Regions from separate parts of the Homo sapiens genome. Here all the other regions are reported to be linked to region 1. The links are microRNA targets in miRTarBase. Many come from high-throughput screens and were not tested one by one. Region 1 holds a microRNA gene; each other region holds the end of a gene's coding sequence.

Region 1 (4,000 bases):
GCTGTTGCTAGAAAACAGAAGTGCGTATCTGTTTTGAAGATTTGTATGCCATCTCTTGATGCTGTAACTAGCAATCCTGCTAAATTCTTACGAATGCAAAGACATTTGTCTGTCAATTCCTTTACCTTTTCTGTGTAGAAAGTCATATCTAGGAGTGGGTGGTTTGCCCCCTTGTGTAAACTGTCGGTACGTTTCTGGAGCCACTGTTCCAGCGCTTTGTTCCAGATGAGTTTCCTGAGTAAGCCTGGCCTTTACTTTCCTGTGCTGCACCTGGCAGGTTTTGTCACGAGGGCTCTTTGCCGTCTTCAGTGAGTTAAGGCGCTTTCCTTTTTTCTGCTCTCTGGAAGAGCTCTTGTGAGGTCTGATCCTCACTGCCTTCAAGGCTTGGAGGCTCACAGTTCAGGTTCCAAGTACTGATTTTTTTTCTCCACTGGGTGTGGTATTCCTCAAGCTGTTTCTTCTGGCATCGGTTTCAGTAACGCGAGTGTTTCCAGTAAGTTGATTTGGGGCAGGCTCCGTAGCTGTCGGTGTCCATCCGTCACGCCTGAACTCCGCAGGCCCTGGCAATTCTTAATGTTGCTTGGCTGTGTCGTCTTTTTTCCTTCATTAATCTCACCAGAAGTTTGTCCATTTCACCAGTATTTTATTTTAATTTATTTATTTTGAGACGAAGTCTTGCTGTGTCGCCAGGCTGGAGTGCAGTGGTGCGATCTTGGCTCACTGCGACCTCCACCTCCCGGGTTCAAGCGATTCTCCTGCCTCAGCCTCCCAAGTGGCTGGGACTACAGGCAGGCGCCACTACACCTGGCTAATTTTTGTATTTTTAGTAGAGACATGGTTTCACCATGTTGGCCAGGCTGGTCTCAAACTCCTGACCTCAGATGATCCTCCTGCCTCGGCCTCCCAAAGTGCTGGGATTACAGGCGTGAGCCACTGCGCCCGGCCAATTTCACCAGTATTTTTAAAGGAGCAGCTCTGACCTCGCTGCCTTCTCTGTGTGTTTCCCTGTGTGTCGCTCACTTTTCTGGCCCTGTCTAGCTTGATCTGGTGGTTGAGAATATTAATTCCTCAGCCTCTCCCAGTGCGGGCATTTGAGGCAGTGTACTCTCCATCTCCTCCTGCACACGCTTTGACAAGCTGTGTTTTCGTAGCATGGGGCAGGCTGTCTTCCTCTCTAGTTTAGAAGAGTGGCATCAGCTTTCATGCCACAGCTCAGTGGAGACCAGAAGCTCTGAATACAACTTGCCGCGTCCTACATGGGAGGCATGAGCACCCCATCTTTGAGGTCCCTAAGATTAGGGCTGGGAGGGAGTCGGAGTAACCTAAAGATGACGCCCTGCTGGTCTTTACCAGAAACCTGCTCTCTGGACCCATGTGGAGGACGGCCCCTGACCAACAGCACTGAATCCCCTGCAGCAGCCCCTCCCAGGGCCCGGGCCCAGGCCCCACACGGTTGCTCTCCAAGGGTTGTTGGGGGGCCAGGGCTGATGTTGACGTGGTGCTGTGGGCTGGGCCTGTGCCCAGGAATGCCACAAGGGGCTGCCATGTGCAGCCTCCAAGACAGAACCGTGTCCATCCAGGCCTGAGGCCCAGCACCACATTAAGAAGTGAGGACCATCTATCAGCTCCCAGGTGAAAGCTCTGAGATAAAGGCTTCAGGAGTGGTCCGATCAAGGTGCATGTTACTTGGACTTTGTCTCTGCCCAAGTTGCAGCCCCTTTGCTCCGAGGGTTGCATCGCACTCAGCACCTCCCTCCCTGCCCCCCTTGGGGTCCCAGGATGGCTGCCACTGCGGCTCCAAGTCAAACCTCCTCCGAATTGTGGGGTAGATTCCACCTCTTACTCTGACTGGACACGCTTCACCCCTCAGGGCATGCGAGAGAATGGGAGGTGAAGGTTCACAGAGGAAATTGGGGTGCTCCCTGTGAACAGAGCTGCAGATGGGAGGCCCTGGTGCTCTCTCCTGGCTTCTGTCAAACCTGGCTGCCCCCCCCAGGTGCCGCCCATCCTGCCTCCAACCCATTTGGACCCTCAGCCCATCCTGGCAGCTTCCTGCCCACTGGCCCCCTGACAGGTGGGTGTCTCTGAATTCAGCCCACGCAGCCTGGCTGGTTCCTCAGCAGCCTTGTGGCGGGGGAATTAGGTGGGCGGGAAGGTGGCCCCGAGCCCCAGGGAGCCCCTTGGGTCATGCAGGCAGTACCCACCAGGCCCAAAGCCTCTACAGCAGCCCCCACTGGGCCAGGTGGGAGCCGCAGCCCACGCCTCACAGACCTCTGGGTCCCGCGGTTGCCCCCACAGACCCTTTCAGCAGACCGAGCACCTTTGGGGGCCTGGGCAGCCTGAGCAGCCACGCCTTTGGGGGCCTGGGCAGCCATGCACTGGGTGAGTGACCCAGCCTGTGCCCCCCTCCCCCGATGCCCGCGCCCCTCCCCCATGCCTGTGTCCTCTGCAGGAACCCCGATGCCTGGCTGACCTCCCTCCTCTCTGGGCTGGGCCTCCTTGGGGCACCCCCTTCTCAGTGTCAGCCTGGGACCCTTCTAAAACCCCTACCGGGTTCTCCTGGGGAGTGGCTGGGGAGCAGACAGACCCAACCTCATGCTCCCCGGCCTCTGCCCCCAGCTCCCGGTGGCAGCATCTTTGCCCCCAAGGAGGGCTCCTCCGTGCACGGCCTGCCCAGCCCCCATGAGGCCTGGAACCGACTGCACCGGGCACCGCCCTCCTTCCCGGCTCCGCCCCCGTGGCCCAAGTCCGTGGACGCGGAGCGGGTGTCAGCCCTGACCAACCATGACCGAGAGCCGGACAATGGCAAGGAGGAGCAGGAACGGTGAGTGGCCCTCTTGTTCCGTATCCCCACCACACACCCCTACCCCGTTCTTTCCCCCCTCCCGTCATCCCCGGTTCCCCCTCCCCCGTTCCCTCTTCTCCCCGTTTCCTCTCCCTCACCGTTCCCCCTCCCCCTGTTCCCCTTCCCCGTTCCCCCTCCCCCATTCCCTCTCACCCTCCTCGCCCCACTGCTGCGCACTCACAGTCTGTCCAGCTCTGCTGAGCCCCGGGGTACGGGGGCCAAAGCTCTGCTCCCCGGCGACTCCTCCCTGCGGTGGGGAGTGAAGCCTGGGCCCTGGGGCTAGGAAGGATGAGGAGGGTGAAGACCCCACCACAGGCACCCACACCTGCCATCCGGGAGACCTCCAGGTGGCCGCGCCCTGACCCACGGAGTTTGAGGGAGGAGTTCGGGGGTGCGGCTGCCGGGAGGCCCCCCTGTCCTAACAGGGAGGGGCCCGTGGGGAGCCGAAGTCGCTGCAGGCGGCTCATCCCGCTTCCGTCTCCCGGCCAAGGTTTCCAGGCCGCCCAGCGGGGAGAGGACGCGTAGGTTTTGGGAGCCTGTGGGGGTGCGGGAGCTGTGGGTGCTGAGGGGTCACCGGCCACCCAGAAACTGGAGGCCCCGACAAGCAACGGGAACATCCCGGGGCTGCGCCGCGCGGCAGGACGGAGGTCTCGGGAGTGACGGGTCCGCCCTGCCGCCCCCAGGGACCTCCTGGAGAAGACGCGCCTGCTGAGCCGGGCCTCGCCCGCCACCCCCGCTGGCCACCCCGTCAGCGGCCTCCTGCTCCGGGCCCAGAGCGAGCTGGGCCGGTCCGGGGCCCCCGCGGAGCGCGAGGCCGAACCTCGGGTCAAGGAGAGCCGCTCCCCGGCCAAGGAGGAGGCCGCCAAGATGCCCGCGCGCGCATCCCCGCCCCACAGCAAGGCGGCCCCTGGAGACGTGAAGGTCAAGGAGGAGCGCGGGGAGGACGAGGCCTCCGAGCCCCCGGCGGGCGGCCTGCACCCCGCGCCCCTGCAGCTCGGCCTGGGCCGCGAGCGCCTGGGCGCGCCGGGCTTCGCGTGGGAGCCTTTCCGCGGCCTGGAGCTGCCACGTCGCGCCTTCCCCGCTGCCGCCCCCGCCCCGGGCTCCGCCGCCCTCTTGGAGCCCCCGGAGCGCCCCTACCGCGACCGCGAGCCCCAC
Region 2 (8,502 bases), not on the chromosome of region 1:
GTAGCTCTAGCCGTATTAGCTATTTACATTTAAATTAATTGCAATTTTAGAAAATTAAAAATTGAGTTCCTCAGTCACACCTGTCACATTTCAAGTGCTCAAAAGTCACATGTCACTAATGGCTACCATGTTGGACAACACAGATATAGAACATTTTTTATCATCGCAGGAAGTTCTATTGGACGCTGTTTTAGCATATCGTAGTGGTGCTATTCACAACAGCCTAAAAACTAGAAACAATCCAAATACCTATAAACAGCAGAATGGATACATTGATTGTGGTATATTCACACCGTGGAACACTCTAAAGTAACTGAAATGAACGACCTACAACTACATGCAGCCATATGGATAAATCTCACGAACGAATGAAGCAGGCGCACAAGAGTGCAATCTATATGATTCCATTTAGATAAAGTTCCCAAACGGGCAAAACTAACCTGTGCTGTTAGAAGCCAGGACAGTGGTTACCCTTAGTGGCTCCAGGTAGTAGTGACAAGAAGAGAGCATGGGGGTACTTTCCGGGGACTGATAATGTTCTGCTTCTTCATCTGGGAGTTGGTAGCATGGAAGGGTTCCGTTTATAAAGATAGAGCGAGCCGTACGCTTGGGGTTTTCTATATGTATCTCCCACTCCAATAAGAAGTTTACTAATCGCTCCTTTGGAAAACCTCAGCTGTTATTAATCTGTTACTTACAATCTAGGTGGGGTGGGGTGGGGGCATATTTTCAACAAAGCAAACGTGGTTTAGAGATCAGTGCCCCCTCCCCCTGACGCCTCCCCAGGACTCCCTGCAGGGGCCTCCCCGTGCCCCTTAAGCCCCACCCAGGACGTCCTACCTCCGCGACCGTCAGGACTGCTGGCTCTTGCAGTTTGGACTCTCACCTGCAGAGTCGGCTAGGCTCTCCCGGGGCTCGCCGGGGCACTCCCGGCCCAGCTGGCTCTGACCGCCCCGGGCCCGCCTGGGAAGCAGCGGCCGGCCCCTGAGCGCCCCGCCCCGTGGCACCTGCGCTGCTCCGGGCGGTTAGAAAGGATCCTTCCCTCTCGCGCGGGGCCAGACTGCACTGAACTCTCTCCAGTCGCGGACAAATCACAGTCCTTCCAGGGCTCGGGCCCCTGGAGTTGGGAGGAGGCGCCCGGGAAGTCCCCACTGGCGTCCTGAACCAGAAAGCGAGGAACTGGGCGGCTGCGACTGGGGCCTTGGACCTCCCGGTCTCCCGCGCGAGTCTCCAGGGAAGCCCCTGCCCACCCGGCCCCACCCTGGCAGAGGCGCGGCCCCAAGTCACTCCGGCGGCGCGCGCGGGCCCGGGAGAAGCCCCGCGGAGAGGGGCCGGGTTTCCACTCCTTACCCTTTCCTCCCTGCAGTGGTGGGCTAGAGAGGACTCGAACCTCCCCCAGGAAACGTCCTTCCACCTTCCCCTTCTGTCGAATGTCCCAGATGCAGCCGAAATCAAAGCCCTGCAGACCCCGCCGGGCGCCACCTGTCCCAGGTTTACCCGCAATGGCTCTGCCGGATCTCTGTGGTGACACGCGCCCGCGGAGCTGGGGTTTTCGGTCCTTGTGCCGCCCTGTTTCCCACGACCCCCCCCGCGCCCCTGTTCCCACCCCCCTGTTTCCACCCCCCTCACCCCGGGGACCTGGGAGTGCCTCGAGGGCGGAATAGAGTCCTAGACATCTTCCTAGAACGTCGACGCAATATCCTAGGTATTGAGATTGATCATCTTATTTAACTTTTAAAGCCAAAATGATTGATACACGAATGTTTACTATATAAACATTCACTGAGTTGCATCCTTAACTATTTGCATGTTTTACTGTAGGCAAAAAAAAAAAAAAGAGGTGCTACAAGCATACCCATTTTATAGAGGAAGAAACTGAGGTTCAGGGCACTTCTAACTTATTCAAAGTTTCCACTGCTGGTTGTGGTGCTGCTGAGAATAGAATAGACTCAGTCTGACTTCAGAGTTCATCCTCTTAACTCCTCAAGATCAGGCTTTGCAGGAAAAAGTACTAGCCATCTAAAACCTATCCCACTTCTTCCCTCAGTGGTGCCAACCCACCCTGAGCTTATTGGGTGGGGAGGGGTTACACACTCATCCAAGGGAACCCAGGAGGGTTGAACCTGAAGTGACCTCTGAAATCATATGGTTCACCCTTCTCTCTACCATAGATCTCAAAAACCACAGCCCAGAGGAACAACTTACTTGGCCTGTCCCAAGTCTCATGGGTCATTAGAAGGCCTGCCTGGATTTTGATTCCTCCTGACTCACAGGACAATTTAATGAAGCAGCAGTTTGTCCTGTCAGGGGGAACTTTTACCCTGGAGAGGGAGCCCAAGGAAGAGGTACCTGCGTTGGTCAAGGGTTTTCAACCTCTGATGGAGGAACCCCAGCAAGGAGCAGTAGGGAAATCCTCCAGTGAAGTGGTGGGAGCTATTTATACCTGGAGACTGCAGGCTCCGGAGCAGGGTAGGGAGCGGGCTGGTCTAGGCTGGCTTCAAGTATCTCAAGACACGCAAACTTGCGGAAGCCAATCCACAGAACCAGTTCTGTTTCCTCTGTGAGGATCACAAGCCACTTTTCCAGAACAAGAGGGAATGCAGAGTGAAGGAAGACCAACGCAGGGCAAGAGGAAGCCCAGCAAGGAAAGTGGGGGTGTGGTGCTGGGAGCACTGAGAGGCCAAGGCCCAGCAGGATAAGGGACTGCATTGGAGGCAAAGTAGTTGCTTACTTAGGAAACCCCCAGTGGAGCAAGGGCAGCTATTCCTAGAGACTTCAGTTCCAAGAGCGAAGGTGCTGGGGGAGTGAGCTCTCACAGGGTGCTTGCCCAGATCTTGCTGACTTTCCATTCCCTGCACCTAATGAATGTAGGGGAAGTCGAATTGGGTCCCAGACGCGGGTCCTGGGTTTCTTACACATCCTAGTGTTCCCCAGGCCCCAAATTTTGTGCCCTGGGGTCAAGGTCTTCACCAAGGTCTTAGCCTCCCTCCTATTCTAGGTATTGAGCTGTAGGACGAGGTGCAACATTGTGGGCAGGGATGTCCTTAGGCAGCATTAGGGGGTACAGAAGAGGTGGGACCTTCGGCTGGGTTGGAGATGGGTTGCCAAGTGTCCTGAACTAGGCCCAGGGAAGGCAAGATTCCAGTTCCACATTTCCCTCGAAGCTAGCAGCCAAGGCCACAGCTCAACAGCACCCAGGCAATTCAGGCAGCCATGAAGCACCAGGGAAGAGGTGCTGACAGAGCCCAGAGGGCATCCCACAACCCTCCTGGCCCCATGAGCTCCTACTGTGGTACCTGTCCCAGAGGGAAAAGATGCCAACCTGGCCCTCCACAACCTCCTGTGGAGAGAGAGAGACAAATAAATCTTTGCATGACACCATGTTATGATATTGGAAAGTACCTAAGACTCTGGTGGCACAAATGTGAGAGTGATTACCTCTACTTAGGTGGTTCAGGAAAGAAGCTTGGCCTTGAAGGAGAGGCAAAAGTTCACCAGAAAAATGGGGGTGGAAGGGCATTCCAGATGGACGGGAGGGCATGTGCTGAGGCATGGAGGCTGAGATAGCAAAGCACTGTTGGAATGACTTCGTTTTGTCATTCAGGCATTGACTTAAATGTAATCTCAACAGGCTTTCCCGACCGCCTACTTGAAAAGACCTCCGTTCCCAGCGTTTGGTTCTATTTCCTTTTTAGAATTCATCTTCTGTTTTTGCATTTGTTTATTGTCTCACCCTCCCTCCACCCACACCTTCACACCTGAAAATAAAATCCACCAATCTAGGGACACTTTTTTTTTCACCGTTCCCAGCAACTCAACAGTACAAGTGAATACATAGTAGGTGCTCAGTATACCTAGTTGAATGGATGAATGAATGAATGAAAGTCTGCAGCCGCAGGCTGTGAGAAGCAAGTAACAAGCCAAGAATTTCCTCTCCAGCCCTTGGCCTAAGCAATCCATGGAAAGGTAACGGCTCCAGAAGAGGGAGCGCGGTAGGGAAGGGGATTCGGGCATCACGGTGGTGGGAGGCTGTGTCCCAGTTCGGGGGCGACGTGAAAGAGGAGGGACCCGGCCGCGAGTTGCTGCGGGACCAGCAGTCTGGTGCACTGGCTCACGCTCGGCTCTGGGGTCTTTCTGCCGCCTGAGAGGCAAGGGGAGGGAAGGTCTTCGCTCCCCAAGTGCCGCTTCTCTAGCCTCCCGCTAGGCCCTTTCGGATGTGTCCAAGTCGCATCCTGGGCGGTCAGAGGGCTTCGGAGGGCTCCCTTGCCTGCCTGCCTCCCTCCCTCCCTTCCCTCCTTCTTTTTCTTCCTCCTCCTCGGGTCTCTACAGCTCCCCAGCCGGGCGGCCCCGCCACAGCCTAGCAGCCCCACCCCCTCCTGTAAGGGAGAAATTGCTAAACTTGTAGCAATAATGACCCAGCATTCAGGCCGCCGACTCCCGCTGAACGTCTCAGCGCCCCGGCCGGCCCGGCCTAATCAGCGCGCCCCTCCCTGCTGCCCGCCCAGCCCCCGTCCCCCTGCCGCCCCCTCCCCCAGAGCACAAAAAGTGGGGAACAAAACCCCCGCACATTTCTCCGTCCCTCTGTTGAGCAGACTGCTGCACAAAGCCCCCGCTCTGAGAAGCAATGGGGAGCTCGGGGGGGACGTCAATCCGACGCGCTGGGGTTTTTGTTCGCGCAGGGGACCTCGCCTTCCTACCACACCTTTTGTTCGGGACTCCAATAAAAAGCCATTCTTTCCGCACCTTCCCGGCCCGGAGCCGCCTTTCAGCGAGGCCCGGCCCCACAATGGCGCGGCGCTCTGAGGCCTCCCCATTCACCCGCCTTGGCACGCTCACAATCGGCCGTGTGGCAGCACAGGCCTCGCACAGGCATTCTCCGCAAGTGACAAGGAGCCGCATAAAGCCGCGGCCGCCGGGGGAGAAGGGAGGGCGGCCAAGGGGGAGAGCTCGGCCGCAGTGGGGCGCAGCGCAGCGCCCCCGGGCGCGTTGGTAGCCCTGGCTGCAGCCAGGGAAGGAGCCGCCTTCGCGCGGCCAACAGCTGGGACTGCGAGCGAGGCTTCCTTTTCCCTGGCGACCCTCGAGGTGGGGCAGAGTGCAAGACTTGACCGAACGCAGGTCTATACAGCTAGTCCAAGCATCTGGGTAAAACTTAGGGGGAACTGCAAAGCCAGGGACTTCAAATGGCCCTGAGCCTTCGACCTGTCCAGCCCTCAAGAGTAAACAGAAATTAATGAACAAAGCCCCGAAGAGATCAGACTTGCAGCCTGGGGCCTGGCTCATGGGAGACCAGGCCTGCGATCGCCCAGGGAGGATGGCTTTCCCCCTCGCACCTTTTCCTCCCCTTCCCGCCCTATTTAAAGGATTCCTCTCCACTCTTTGGGGCTAAACAAATTCTGTAGCCGGCCAACGATTTGAAAATATTGCACCTTGTTTATTGACTCCTGTAGTGTGTGGCAGCGGGTGTCTACACGGCGTGTGGTTATAGTTATATAGATAGATAGATAGATAACATGTGCTGAATACAGAATACGAAACAGAAAGGAAACCCGGTAACACCTCCGGTGGGCCACCAGGTCCTGAGTTTGTTCAGCCTCCCCCCACCCCCAACTTTTGATCTCATTCGGCTGGTTTTCCTCGAAGAGTCCTGCGTCCCCCGACAATCCGGAGATCTGGACCGAGGTATCTGCTGCGGAGGGGAGACAGCTGCGAAACGAAATCGACTGTGCTATGGCGCTCCAGGCCCGCAAAGGGGGCAGAGGATCGGTAGGGCCTGGAATTTCTCAAGCCACGACCCCCATTTTTCTCTCCTTCATGCTTTTAATTTGTTATGTCCTTGGGCTCCCCGCCAACGCTTCGCGGAGGCCGCGGAAAGGCAGAGGGAGAGAAGCCCTTCTCGCTTTGGAAGAACCAAGCGCGGCCAGGGTCCTAGCCTCCTGGTCTCCTCTCGCTGCCAGGGTCGGGGCCATCGTCCTCCCCGGCGCCCAGCCGGCGTTTCTGCCTCAGAGACAGTCCTGGCGACCGGACCCAGTCATCCTCCTCGCCCCTGAGTCCCCTTCCCCAGGCCTCGAGTGAGCTGCGATCCGAAGCCCTGAGGAGCTAGACGTACATATTTTTTTAACGAGGGGACCTGACCTTTAGGTCAGGCCCTTCTCGAGCTTCAGTCCCGCGGCGCCAGGCTGCGCTGGGGTGCCCGCCGCGTGACCCGCCCCGTCCCTACCAGGCCCGGATGCCCTGCAAGGTGCCCTGAGCGCACGCGGCCCCGGCTGCAGTACCCTGGTGCAACGGCTGTGCGCTGCCGCCGCTGCCGAAGCCTCCTAGGTTGCTCACGTTCACAAAGGGGCCGCCTCCGGCCGCGCTGCAGGCGGGCTGCATGGCAGTGGTCGCCGCGGAGGTCCCGCCGCCGCCGCCGCCGCCGCCCGCCGGGTACGCACAGCCATAGCTGCTGCTGTAGGCCGCCGCTGCTGCGGCGGCGGCGGCGGCGGCGGCGGCGGCCGCGGCCGAGTTCCCATAGCCGTAGGCGGGGAAGCTGTTGTAGGAGTAGGCGCTGGCGCCCACGCTGTAGGGCGCGCCGTAGGCCTGCGCGCTGGGCGTGACGCACGGCTTGCCGTCCCGCACCAGCACCGGGACAGCCACGCGGCGCGGCGGCGGCGGGGGCGCGTGTGCGCCAAGCTCCAGAGACTTGTCCTGCCGCTGTCTCTTGCACTTGTACCTGCGATTCTGGAACCAGATTTTCACCTGAGTGGATGTGAGCTTCAGGCTGCTGGCGAGGTGCTCGCGCTCGGGTGCCGACAGGTACCGCTGCTGCTTGAACCTGCGTTCCAGCTCGAAGACCTGGGCTTGCGAGAAGAGGACCCGGGGCTTCCGGCGGCTGCGTGGCTTCGGCCTCTCGCTCTCCTCCGCCGCCTTGCAGTCTCCGGCCGTCTCTAGAGACTTCTTCAGCTGGCAGCTTTCTGCGGAAGAAGCAAACAACAGCGTCCTTAGCTGTTCCCGGCCGCACCGCGGCTCCTGTCCTGGAGCACCGTGACCCTTTTTGGTGGCTGCGCAGAGCGTGCGGTAGTAAATGGCTGGACTTTTGGGAACGTTTGTGGCTCCTGGCGCTGTGGGACCCTGAGACAGCCCCAGTACCCAAAGAACGCCCTTAGCAGGCGGAGGCGCGTTTCGTGGAGAGGGGTAGTTAGTGCGTGTTTATTTGGATCTTGAGCATCTGCGAGAGAAGAGATTACTCTGTATTAAATATGCGGCTCGACGTGCTAATGACTATTTTCAGGATGAAGGCTTGCAACTACATAATAACTACAGTATTTGCAAACTCGTTTGCATTCTACTCCACCAAGGATAACTGAAGGTGTGAGGCGTGTTGGTATGAGTGGGCCGGTGGGCATGGGTTGCGCGAAAATCTGTTCTGAGTGTAACGCTTGTGCATGGCTCAGGGACTTGTGTGTGTGTGTGGCTTATAAAAGACTACAAGCGAATGTTATGACGACATCTGTGTGCACTTTGAAAATGAAGTTTGATTGACTAGTTATAGACAGTTTCATGCCGATTTTCGGCTCTGGGAACTATGAGAGCATAGGCCTTGGCCTCTGCCACATCAAACCGCCTCTTGGGGAAAGACTGTGATTCTGTCCTCTTAAATACACTTCCTTGGGGACTTTATTTGATTATCCCATCTCCCTATCAATTCACTTCCCATCCGATGTGAGCAGCCAAGATCTCGGACTCAAGTTCGGCGCGTTTTCTATTAGGCCCGCAGCCTGGGACACAAAGCAAAACGTTACGGATTTTCAAAAAAGGCTGGCGCCTTAGGGATGTGAGAGCTATGGTCGCGCGGAATAGACATTGTTCCCACGCACTTTCCGATCATCTCCTCTCTCTCTACCGAGTGCCACGGGTTCAAGGACGCTGAGCTCCAAGCAGAGAAGGGAGGAAACCGCCCAGCTGGCCTCCACCAAAGTTCCTGCCCCTGCGGGTGCGAGAGACACAGGCTGCTTGGGCTGTCTTTTCGGAGAAGAAGGGGTGGCTGCCCTGGGCTAAGAGAACTCATCTCACCCTAGAGGGAAAACGAAAAAGGTCCAGGCTCCTGCCCTTTTTGGGGGAAGAGCCTTTTGGGGCGGGGGGAAGAGCAAAAATACTGCCAGTTATGAGGACCCAGGCGCTGAGCCCACGTCGCCTCTCAGCATCAGGGCAGCAGTAACCACCTTCCCTTCCCTCATTTCCCCCTTTTGGGGGGAGTAGTTGTCAGGGTCACCTCGTCCTTGTCTCTCCACCCCGGCTCCCTTGCAGGTACCTGCGCTTTGTGGAGCTGTCGGTGACCAGGGCGGAGGCATGGCCCCAGCCAAAGGGTAAAGGGATGGGCAGCTGCGCTGGCAAGGTCTGTGGGCTGTTTGTGTGCGCTCTGCCATTGCTCCAGGTGTGCGGGTGCGTTTTCTTTCCCCCTCTACTCACTTTGGCTCCGGTCCCTCACGACCTCGGGCTCCTCTTCATGTTCCTTGGGCTCGCTGC
Region 3 (8,502 bases), not on the chromosome of region 1:
TGTTCAGGGTCCTTGTTTAGGGGGGAACATGCCCAGAGGTCCCGCAGACAGACCTGAGCCCACACCTGCCCCACCCAGGAATGCAGCGGCCGTGCAGGATGGCTCCCAGTACTCGGTGCTGCTCATCATTACTGATGGGGTCATCTCGGACATGGCGCAGACCAAGGAGGCCATTGTCAACGTAAGCAAGGAGTGTGCGGTGGGGGAGGCGGTTTGAGGAGTGTCTTCCTCCCCGTTAGGGGAACCCTGGGGATGTGCCTACCTCCTTGACCTTAGGGAAATGCTTGGAGATGACTTGGGCGTGGCTTCTCATTTCCCTGCCTCACTGGGCCCCACTGCCCTCATCCACCTTCTGGCCTCTGGCTGCAGAGTCCGGTGCTGGATAGTGGATTCTAGCGGGTGGAAGGGGTGCCCAGATCATGAGAGATCTGGCTGGTGAGCTCTGTTCCCACCTCTTAGTCACGCTCTGGTCTACTCCCTCCAGACCCCAATGACTCCCTCATTAACCCATCTCTAGGACCGCTTCCCCCTTTCCCAGGCCAGCCTGGCCAGGTCAAAGGAGTGGGAGGGGAGGCTCAGAGTTGGGGAAGCTCAGGAACATGGCTCCCCAAGCCGGTGGTCTCCCTGTAAGAGGGGATGGGGGTGACTCACCAAAGCAGACCTATGACCCATTCCCCCTGCCACCCTCCCTCTCTCCTCCAGGCGCAGCCTGGTTTCCTTTGCTCTTTATCTCTGAGTGCCCTCCCTCTCCCTACCCCCTTTTCTGTGTTTCTCTGTCTCTCCATGTTCACTCTCCCATTTCTTTCCTGCCCACCCCTTCCTGTCCTACCCCTGATTTCTCCTTCCTTTTAACTGGGTCCCAATTGGGTCCAACCTTTCCCTGCCCCCCATGCTGTCTCCCAGGCTGCCAAGCTCCCCATGTCCATCATTATCGTCGGCGTGGGCCAGGCAGAGTTCGACGGTGAGTCCAGCTGCTGCCTTCCCCTCCTTTCCTTCCCTAGCCACGCAACCCTGCCCCCACCCCAGATGTTTCCCCAGAGGCTGTGGTCCCCTGGGAATGACCCCTCCCAAAAGAGTGAGAGCTCCCGCCTGGGCGTGTGTGTCTGGGTGAGTGTGCAGGGTGTGGGACGCATTTGTTTGCTCAGGGAAGGGTGTGTCAGGTCTGGGTGTGCACCCACACCCACATCCCAAGGCTGTGGGGAGGAGGCCCCAAGTCACTTCTTTCTCCTCCAGCCCTGGGAGTCTGGGGAGGGTGGTGAACCAAAGCACTGGGCTCAAAGTCAGAGGCTCACCTGATCGGGCTCCTCCTGGCCCCTGGCCTCAGTTTCCTCATCTCTAACACGGGGCATGGGCCAGTGGTCTCGGCCCTGGATTGGCCTGGGATGAAAGGACAAGTCCACTCTCCTGCTAGGGCCAGGGGTCCACCGTTAATCTCACCCCGCCCCATGACACTCCTCCCCTCACAGCCATGGTGGAGCTGGATGGCGACGACGTGCGGATCTCCTCCCGGGGGAAGCTGGCTGAACGCGACATCGTCCAGGTGAAGCCCAGGCCTTGCCTGCCCCATGGGAAATTCAAGAGCCCCTCTAGCCAGGCGGACCTCACACCCCCTTTGGGGGCTTCCCTGGTGAAGGGCCCAGAAGGGAGGCACTGGGAGCCCCAAAGTGGCCCAGCCACCACCGAAGGGAGTAGGAGTCAGTCCTCGGCCATGCTGTGGTCTGGGCTGGGCCCCCCTCTGTCACATCTGGGACACACTCCTAACATTGCGGGTGCCCAGCCAGAGGCCAGAACCCTCTGCCAGCCCTTCCTCAGCCTCCAGGCCTCTGTGGTCAGCCTCGTTCTGGTTTTTTTCTGCCCCTTGAAGGCTGAGGCAGTGTCTTTAGTGTTGCTGCAGCCTTCTCCAAGAATAGGCATTGCTCGGTTAACTGAATCAATGTAAGCATCTCCATGAACGGTGCAAATATAATGAGCAGAAAGACCTTTGTCCTCAGGGAATTCCCATGCAGTCTCACGTGGAAGAATGCACCCTCCGCAAGCACTTCCCCCACTCATCCCCTGCAGAGGAGGCCCTAGTGCTTAGGAGATGCAGAAGACAAAGCTGACATCCTGCATACCCCCTTGGTTTAAAAATTGGGGCCCAGTATCCCAGGTGTGGAGACCAAACATAGGGGGCTGGAAACCAGAGCAAGACAACCTGGGAGGTGGGACCGGCCCATGCTAAGGCCTGGAGGCAGGAGTGAGCCAGAAGAGGCGCTCAGGATGGAGGGCACCCCCGGGAAGAAGCCAGATGGGCCTGGCATTAGGCATTGGCCAGATTAGCCCCAGAGAGAAAAGGAACGAAGAGAGGCCAGAGAGAGAGGGCTCTGCTGGACAGGTCGGGGGAAACCCAGGAGGGCACGTGCCCCAGAAGTCAGGGATTCAGTTGGCATTTCGGAAGCACCTACTCAGAGCCTGTGCTTAGTGCCGAGGTGGAGAAATCGTGTTCAGTGGTGTGTCCTGGTGTGGAATAGGGCTCAGTTTTTGTCGAGTGAATGAAAGAATAGTGACTATGACTATAGTTACTGACTGCCCAAACCCAGGGAGTTGAGGGATACAGTCCCTCAGGTAATTCAGAAAGGTGGGGGGATTGAGTCAAGTGAGCAGAGGCTGGGAGGGGGGTGGGGATGCAACCCCAGGCCTGGAGATTTTGGGGGCCAGGGTCCCACAGGAGGCACTGCCTGACCCTGCCCTCCCACTTGCCAGTTTGTACCCTTCCGGGACTACGTGGACCGCACAGGCAACCACGTGCTGAGCATGGCCCGCCTGGCCCGAGACGTGCTGGCAGAGATCCCTGACCAACTGGTGTCCTACATGAAGGCACAGGGCATTCGCCCGCGTCCCCCACCCGCAGCACCAACCCACTCGCCCTCGCAGTCCCCAGCCCGCACGCCCCCTGCGTCCCCCCTGCACACGCACATCTGAACCTGGTCTCAGCAGGCAGGTGGCTGGGGCCTGGGAGAGGCCAGGTGAATGGGAGGCCAGGGCCCCAGACTCCCCGAAGTTGGCCTGCCCGGCCTTTGGGACATCTGTGTGCCTGGGAGGCTGCCAGGGGGTGGGGCTTCTGAAGACCCCTCCTCAATTTCTTGGCCTCACTTATTGCCCAAACCCAGGGAGTTAGGGGGGTACGGGTGAAAGAGGGGTACACAGGGACCCAGCCCTTCTCTTCTTCCCCAATACCTGGCTCTAACCCAGCCAGGAAGGTGTAAACAATAAGGGTGATTGGGGTCCCTGTCGCCCACCCCCGGCAATCCTATTTGCTTACCTGTCACCCTGAAGCCTGGGCTTGGCCTCCTCCAGCCCCCCATCTCCGTCCCATCCTCCCATGGTGTCTACTCCTGTCCCTGAGCCCCGCCCTGTGGTCTATCCTGTGCCCGATTTCCAGTGAACCCCATGAAGCTGATGGGTTTGCAGGAAGGCCTGAACATGTGCACCCTCCCAGGGACACTGGATGCGCTGGGAGCCCCGGGGACCCCATGGGGTGCTGTAATCATGGACCGTAGGCCATGTGATGGGCCTGAAGTGGAGGCTGCTCAGCACAGAGCCCTTTCTGGTGCCTCTCGAACTCAGTACGATGCAAGTTCTAGACACACAGATGGCCTGTGGAGGCCTCTCCCTGGTGTGGGCCCACAGGTACTTCCATGGTTGACTCCTGGCTTCAGGAATCCCTTCCTCCCTCCAGAGGCTTCCCAGGGCCCTCGGTGCCCACGCCTCTGCCCATCTGGAGGCCTGAGTAAGGAGTGGCTCAGCCCCACGTTCCCACACTGCTCCTGCTCTTTGCCCTGTATCCCATGAGGCTAGGAGACAGGAGTCCTGGGTTTGAGCCCTGCCTCCCCCCACTGCCTAATGTGGGAACCCAAGCAAGGCCCTTCTACCTTTTGGGCCTCAGTTTCCATGTCTGTACCACAAGAGGGTTGACCAGATGGCCCCAGGTTTTCCTTTAGGTCTGACATCCTGAGGGTCATTCATCCCATGCCCAGTTCCCCCCATCCTACTCCTAACAGATGTGACCCTACTTGAGGCCGCCTTGGCTTTTGGGTCACCCTGTCTCATCCCATCACCCCAAACATACCCTAGTCCTTCAGCCTGGGGCTCTGGCATCTGAGCCCGAGCTCCTGCCCCTGCTGTGGGAAAGGTGGGGAAGAAGGGGATCTCCCTCCCGGGCCCACCCAGCTGCCCAGCCTTTGCCCACTCGGGGAGCAGATCATGCATGCCAATCCCTGTTGCCGCATGGAGCTCCTCAGCCCACTGACCTCTCCGTGCCTGGTGCAGGCCAGGCCCCCGTCTTCCGCCTGCCTCTGCTTCCCCGTCATGCATGGTGGTGGTGTTTCTACGGTGTCTGGTTCTGTGCCCGTCTCTGAGACAGTCTCTGTGTGGAATTTGCCTTAAACTGAAGTAAATTTGGTTCTTTTAGTAAAGCACGAAGTTTTTCTTTCTTCTCTGAAAAATAGCACTGACGTTGCTGCTTGACAGGGTCCAGTTCTCCTCTGTGGCTTCCTTCAATTGTTTGCTTCAGTGAGATTTACAATCAAAGGCCACGTGCCACGCTCTGTGCTAGGCATTGAGGATGCAGCCATGAACAAAGCACAGACCCTGTCCCTGCACAGGGCTTACAACACACACACAGATAATATGGGAGAGACCCAGCAAACACATCAACAAATAGGCTAGTAACATCATTTCAGGTGGTAGCAAGAGTTCTAAAGACACATGAGGGAGAAGGAGGGTGATGTTTTCGATGAGGTGGTCAGAGAGGGCCTCTCAGAGGAGGTCATGGTTGAGGTGAGCCCCCAGGAAGTAAGACAGGGAGCCACGCTGATATCTGGGGAAGGGAGCTCTAAGTAGAGGGACCAGCAGGCGCAAAGGCCCTGTGGTAGGAGCTTCCTTGGTGCATTTGCAGGAGAGCGAGGCCAGTGTGGCTGGAGCTGAGTGCAGGAAGGGAAAGTGCTAGAGATGGGGTCGGAGAGGTGAAGAGGCCAGAATGCACAGGCCGCATAGGCCATGATGAGGCCTTTGGCATTTACTGAGTGAAACGGGAAGCCATTGAGGAGGTGAGAGAAGTGAGTAACATCATCAGAATTTCCTCTAAAATAAACGGATTGCTTTATTGCATTTGATCACTCATTCACTCATCTCTCAACAAGTATTTACCAAACATGAGTGCCAGGCCCCACTCACGTATTGGAGACCATGCTGGAGATGCACACACAGAATTGCACCCTCAGGGGTGCCCCTGCTCTGGGGCAGTGAGCGAGGAAATACTACAACCATGGGGTACTGATGCCAAGCCATCAGGAGGGGCTGGGTAATCTGTGGGCACCAGAGTCACTGTGCCATGAGGAGGAGTCTGGCATCCCCTGTGCAATGGGGTCGTCACCACCACCCCCATCCTTGCAGGGTCATCGTGTGGCCAGAGTGACGAGTACATAAGGTTGCATGTGACATATGTGACATGCGCCCAGGACCCATGGCATTTTAGGTGCCCAAGAAACACTGTTTTCCTCTTGTTCCTCTTCACATATAAATCCCTGTGGCCATCAGGGACCAGGATCATAGCAAAAGGGGATTTCTCCCTTCTCTGGGCAAGTTTGTTCCCAGATTAGCCCTCCAGGCAGCCATTCCCACCCTGAACATCACAAGAAATTTGGAACTAATTATACCAAAGTTTGGGACTTGTTTACTTCTTATGATTTTATAGTAAATGGGTGCTGATTCACGGCTGTCCCTATAATTACATGCCCCTGTGACTTACATTCTGATATGCTTTGAGTGGGAACAGGGTGGGGTCACAGCTTGGAAGGAGGGAAGTTCCCATAACCAGCAGCTCATGTCACCTCACCACAGGGGCCGTGGGAAAGTGTCAGGAGAGGGTGCTTGCCTGGCAGGGGGACTGAGGCACAGAGCCACTGCCGGGGGCGGGACGGGACACCAAGAGCATCTTTGCTGTGCCCAACACCGTAGCATCTTGTGGATTCTTTCCCAAGGTGTGTTCCACAGAATACTGGCTCTCTGGCATGGAGTTTGGGAACCTGCCTGCTGTGCGTCCCTCTCGAGAGTCTCAGTGGCCTTTTGGGTATTCAAGGCTCTGGTAAGTCCTACAGCAAAGGGACCAGTATGATTTGGTTCAACCCAACGTTTCTCAAGCTTTGTATCACAGAGTCAGTGTGTGTATGTGTGTTTTGCTGGTAACACCGTCACCAAGCAGAACGTGCTGTCTTGGGAATTTCAGTAGAGACAATCTCCCGGGTTTCCAGGCCAACATGGAAGCCTGAAGCCTGCCCTGAGCAGGCCAGAGGGAGGGCACTGAGGGTGGGAAAAATGGAAACCTCAAATTGGGCTCTGGAGAGAAGAAAAGGGCTCTGAAAGGGATCCCTGCCCCAGGTGCTTCAGGAAGAGAAGCCACAGGGAAGAAAGGAGGGCTTCAGACATTCACAGTCCCGGAGTCATGGCTGCATGGTTGACTGGATTTTTGTCCCCCTATTGGACTGAGGGGTGTGTGGAACAGAGCTGGAGGGGTGGGCAGAGAGGGGAAAGGCTGTCCTGCCTCTGAGCTCACCCCCCAGGCTGTGGCTGGCCCTCTGCTCCCCCTACTCAATCTCCTGGCCTTCAGGATTAAGGACCCTAGGCTGTTACCCCCCAGATCATTCTCCACCCACTTCTCTGCCTTTGGAAGCCCCTCTGTCCTCCTCTTGTCCACTCACCTCAAATACCCCTGAATTAATACAAATAAAATAATAATAGTAGCAATGACCAGCACGCATATGCACTTACTAAGCATCCTTCTAAGCACTTTACATGTGTTTAGCAAATTCATCTTCATAACAACCCTGTGAAGAAGGTATGTACTGTCATCATCCCATTTTCCAGATGAGAACACTGAGACACAGAGGCTCAAGATCACACAATTAGAGAGCAGTGGAGCCTACAGAGATCTGAGCCTGAAAGTGGAGTGGGAGGATCCATCTGGTTACCTAGAGATGTGAGCTCTAGCTGAGCCATTTAGTTGCTTTGTGACCTTGTTTGGGCCATCTGCCCTCTGGGTCTCAGTCTCTCCACTGGTAAAATAGAGGGGATGGGCTGTCAGGTCCCTAAGGGTCTTCCCATCTCCCTTGAATCTCAGCGCATCCATCAGCCTATACTCTTAGACCCCCGCCAGGCCCCACAGGCCTCCTGAGGCCCTGTCACGGCCAGGCTGGACAGTCGCCACCACTGAGGCTGCCACTCCCACACCTCTGGGATGCCTGGCCATCATCGGCCTGCAGAAGAGGTCCCTGAGTCCTGCCTGGAAGGGGCGGGAGAGGTAGAAGCAGAGGATAGGGCTGACAGCGCAATTGGAGTAGGCCAGGATGGTGCAGAGGCTGGAGGCCACAAAAGCAGCCGGTGTGGCAGGCAGGTAGCCCATGGCTGCCACATAACCCAGCATGGAGCAGGGCCCCCACATCAGCACAAAAACCACCAGCACCACAAGGCTGAGCCCTATGTTCTCTTAATGCTCCTGGATGCTCTCTCCCATGGGACCTTGGGGCTGGGTCCACAGGAGCCAGCCCACGTGGCTGAAAGAGCAGCCCAGCCCCAGCGTGCATGGCAGGAAGGCCAGGGCTCCCAGCAGGCTGATGTAGCAGGAGGTCCCAGCAGGGCTCAGGAGCAAGAGGCAGGCCTGGGTCTTGGGAGCCCCCGCTGTCTCCTCCTCCACTGCCACCCTCTGGAACAGCCAGTTGGGCAGGGATTCTGTAAGGCCCAGGGCCCACATGGCCCCACAGAGCAGCAAGAGGGTGCCCCAGCCGGCTGGGAAGGCCAGGTCAGGCCGGGCCACAGCCACATGGCGCAGGAGAGCTGTGGCCACCATGCTATAGAAGATGCAGAACGTGGTGGCTGTGTTGGTGGCCTGGCTAATGGTGCAGATGGCAGGGCCCAGCCACCAGTTGTGCTGCAGGAAGCTCAGCAGCAGCACAGGCACCACGCAGGCCAGGAAGAGCAGGTCAGATGGCGTGATGTTCATCATGAGGCTGTGGGTCAGGGAGTGGAGCGGGTGGGGGGAGCCCGGGCCCCGGCCCACCACCAGCAGCATGAGCCCATTAGCTGACAGCCCCACCAGCAGGATGAGGCCACAGACCCCAGCAGAGATGAGTCGGAGCAGTCGCTCAGGTGTGGCCGTGAGCTGCGTGGTGAACGTAGCATTGGGCTCCATTCTGTTTCAAACACACAAGGACAAAGTAGAAACCAGCCAGCCCCAAAGGCCGCCTTCCCCATTCCTGCTAAGCCTCCTTTTTTCACAGACCCCCTGCATGTAGTGGGCCCAGATAAGGCCTGTCCTTGGCACACATTAGCCCCTGCAGACCTCATGACAACCCCATGGGATGGACTCCATTAGTACCCTGGGTTCAAATCCTGCCTCTGCTGCTTGCTAGCTCCAGTACCCTGGGATTTATTTATTTATTTATTTTTTTAGAAACAGAATCTCACTCT

The links. The annotated mature microRNA hsa-miR-6763-3p reads CUCCCCGGCCUCUGCCCCCAG and lies in region 1 at 2,599-2,619, shown strand. An mRNA with a match to its seed (bases 2 to 7 or 8) in the 3' UTR can be bound and repressed. Matches are read on the target gene's strand: a 7mer-m8 pairs with bases 2 to 8, a 7mer-A1 pairs with bases 2 to 7 and ends in A, and an 8mer does both.
Region 2: miRTarBase lists NKX2-3 as a target of hsa-miR-6763-3p. Seed matches in the 3' UTR shown: 7mer-m8 at 5,972-5,978.
Region 3: the mRNA of CPNE5 is a reported target of hsa-miR-6763-3p. Seed matches in the 3' UTR shown: 7mer-m8 at 3,502-3,508.

The regions. Positions count from the first base shown.
Region 1 is chr12:132,579,443-132,583,442 of GRCh38, forward strand. MIR6763 (microRNA 6763) reads left to right here and starts at 2,555; the gene lies at 2,555-2,619. It overlaps FBRSL1 (fibrosin like 1), which reads left to right. Exons shown (of 19, transcript NM_001367871.1): 16 at 1,997-2,074; 17 at 2,299-2,382; 18 at 2,620-2,824; 19 at 3,529-4,000.
Region 2 is chr10:99,533,433-99,541,934 of GRCh38, reverse strand. NKX2-3 (NK2 homeobox 3) reads right to left here. Exons shown (of 2, transcript NM_145285.3): 1 at 8,446-8,502; 2 at 5,411-6,950. The coding sequence ends at 6,214. Among named protein-coding and RNA genes, the nearest start is that of NKX2-3, 4.7 kb to the right of the region's middle. RefSeq lists an enhancer at 1,075-1,783 and silencers at 4,826-4,905, 6,481-6,630.
Region 3 is chr6:36,736,727-36,745,228 of GRCh38, reverse strand. CPNE5 (copine 5) reads left to right here. Exons shown (of 21, transcript NM_020939.2): 18 at 79-181; 19 at 904-961; 20 at 1,467-1,540; 21 at 2,743-4,454. The coding sequence ends at 2,961. It also overlaps the pseudogene GPR166P. Among named protein-coding and RNA genes, the nearest start is that of RAB44, 43 kb to the right of the region's middle. RefSeq lists a silencer at 96-296.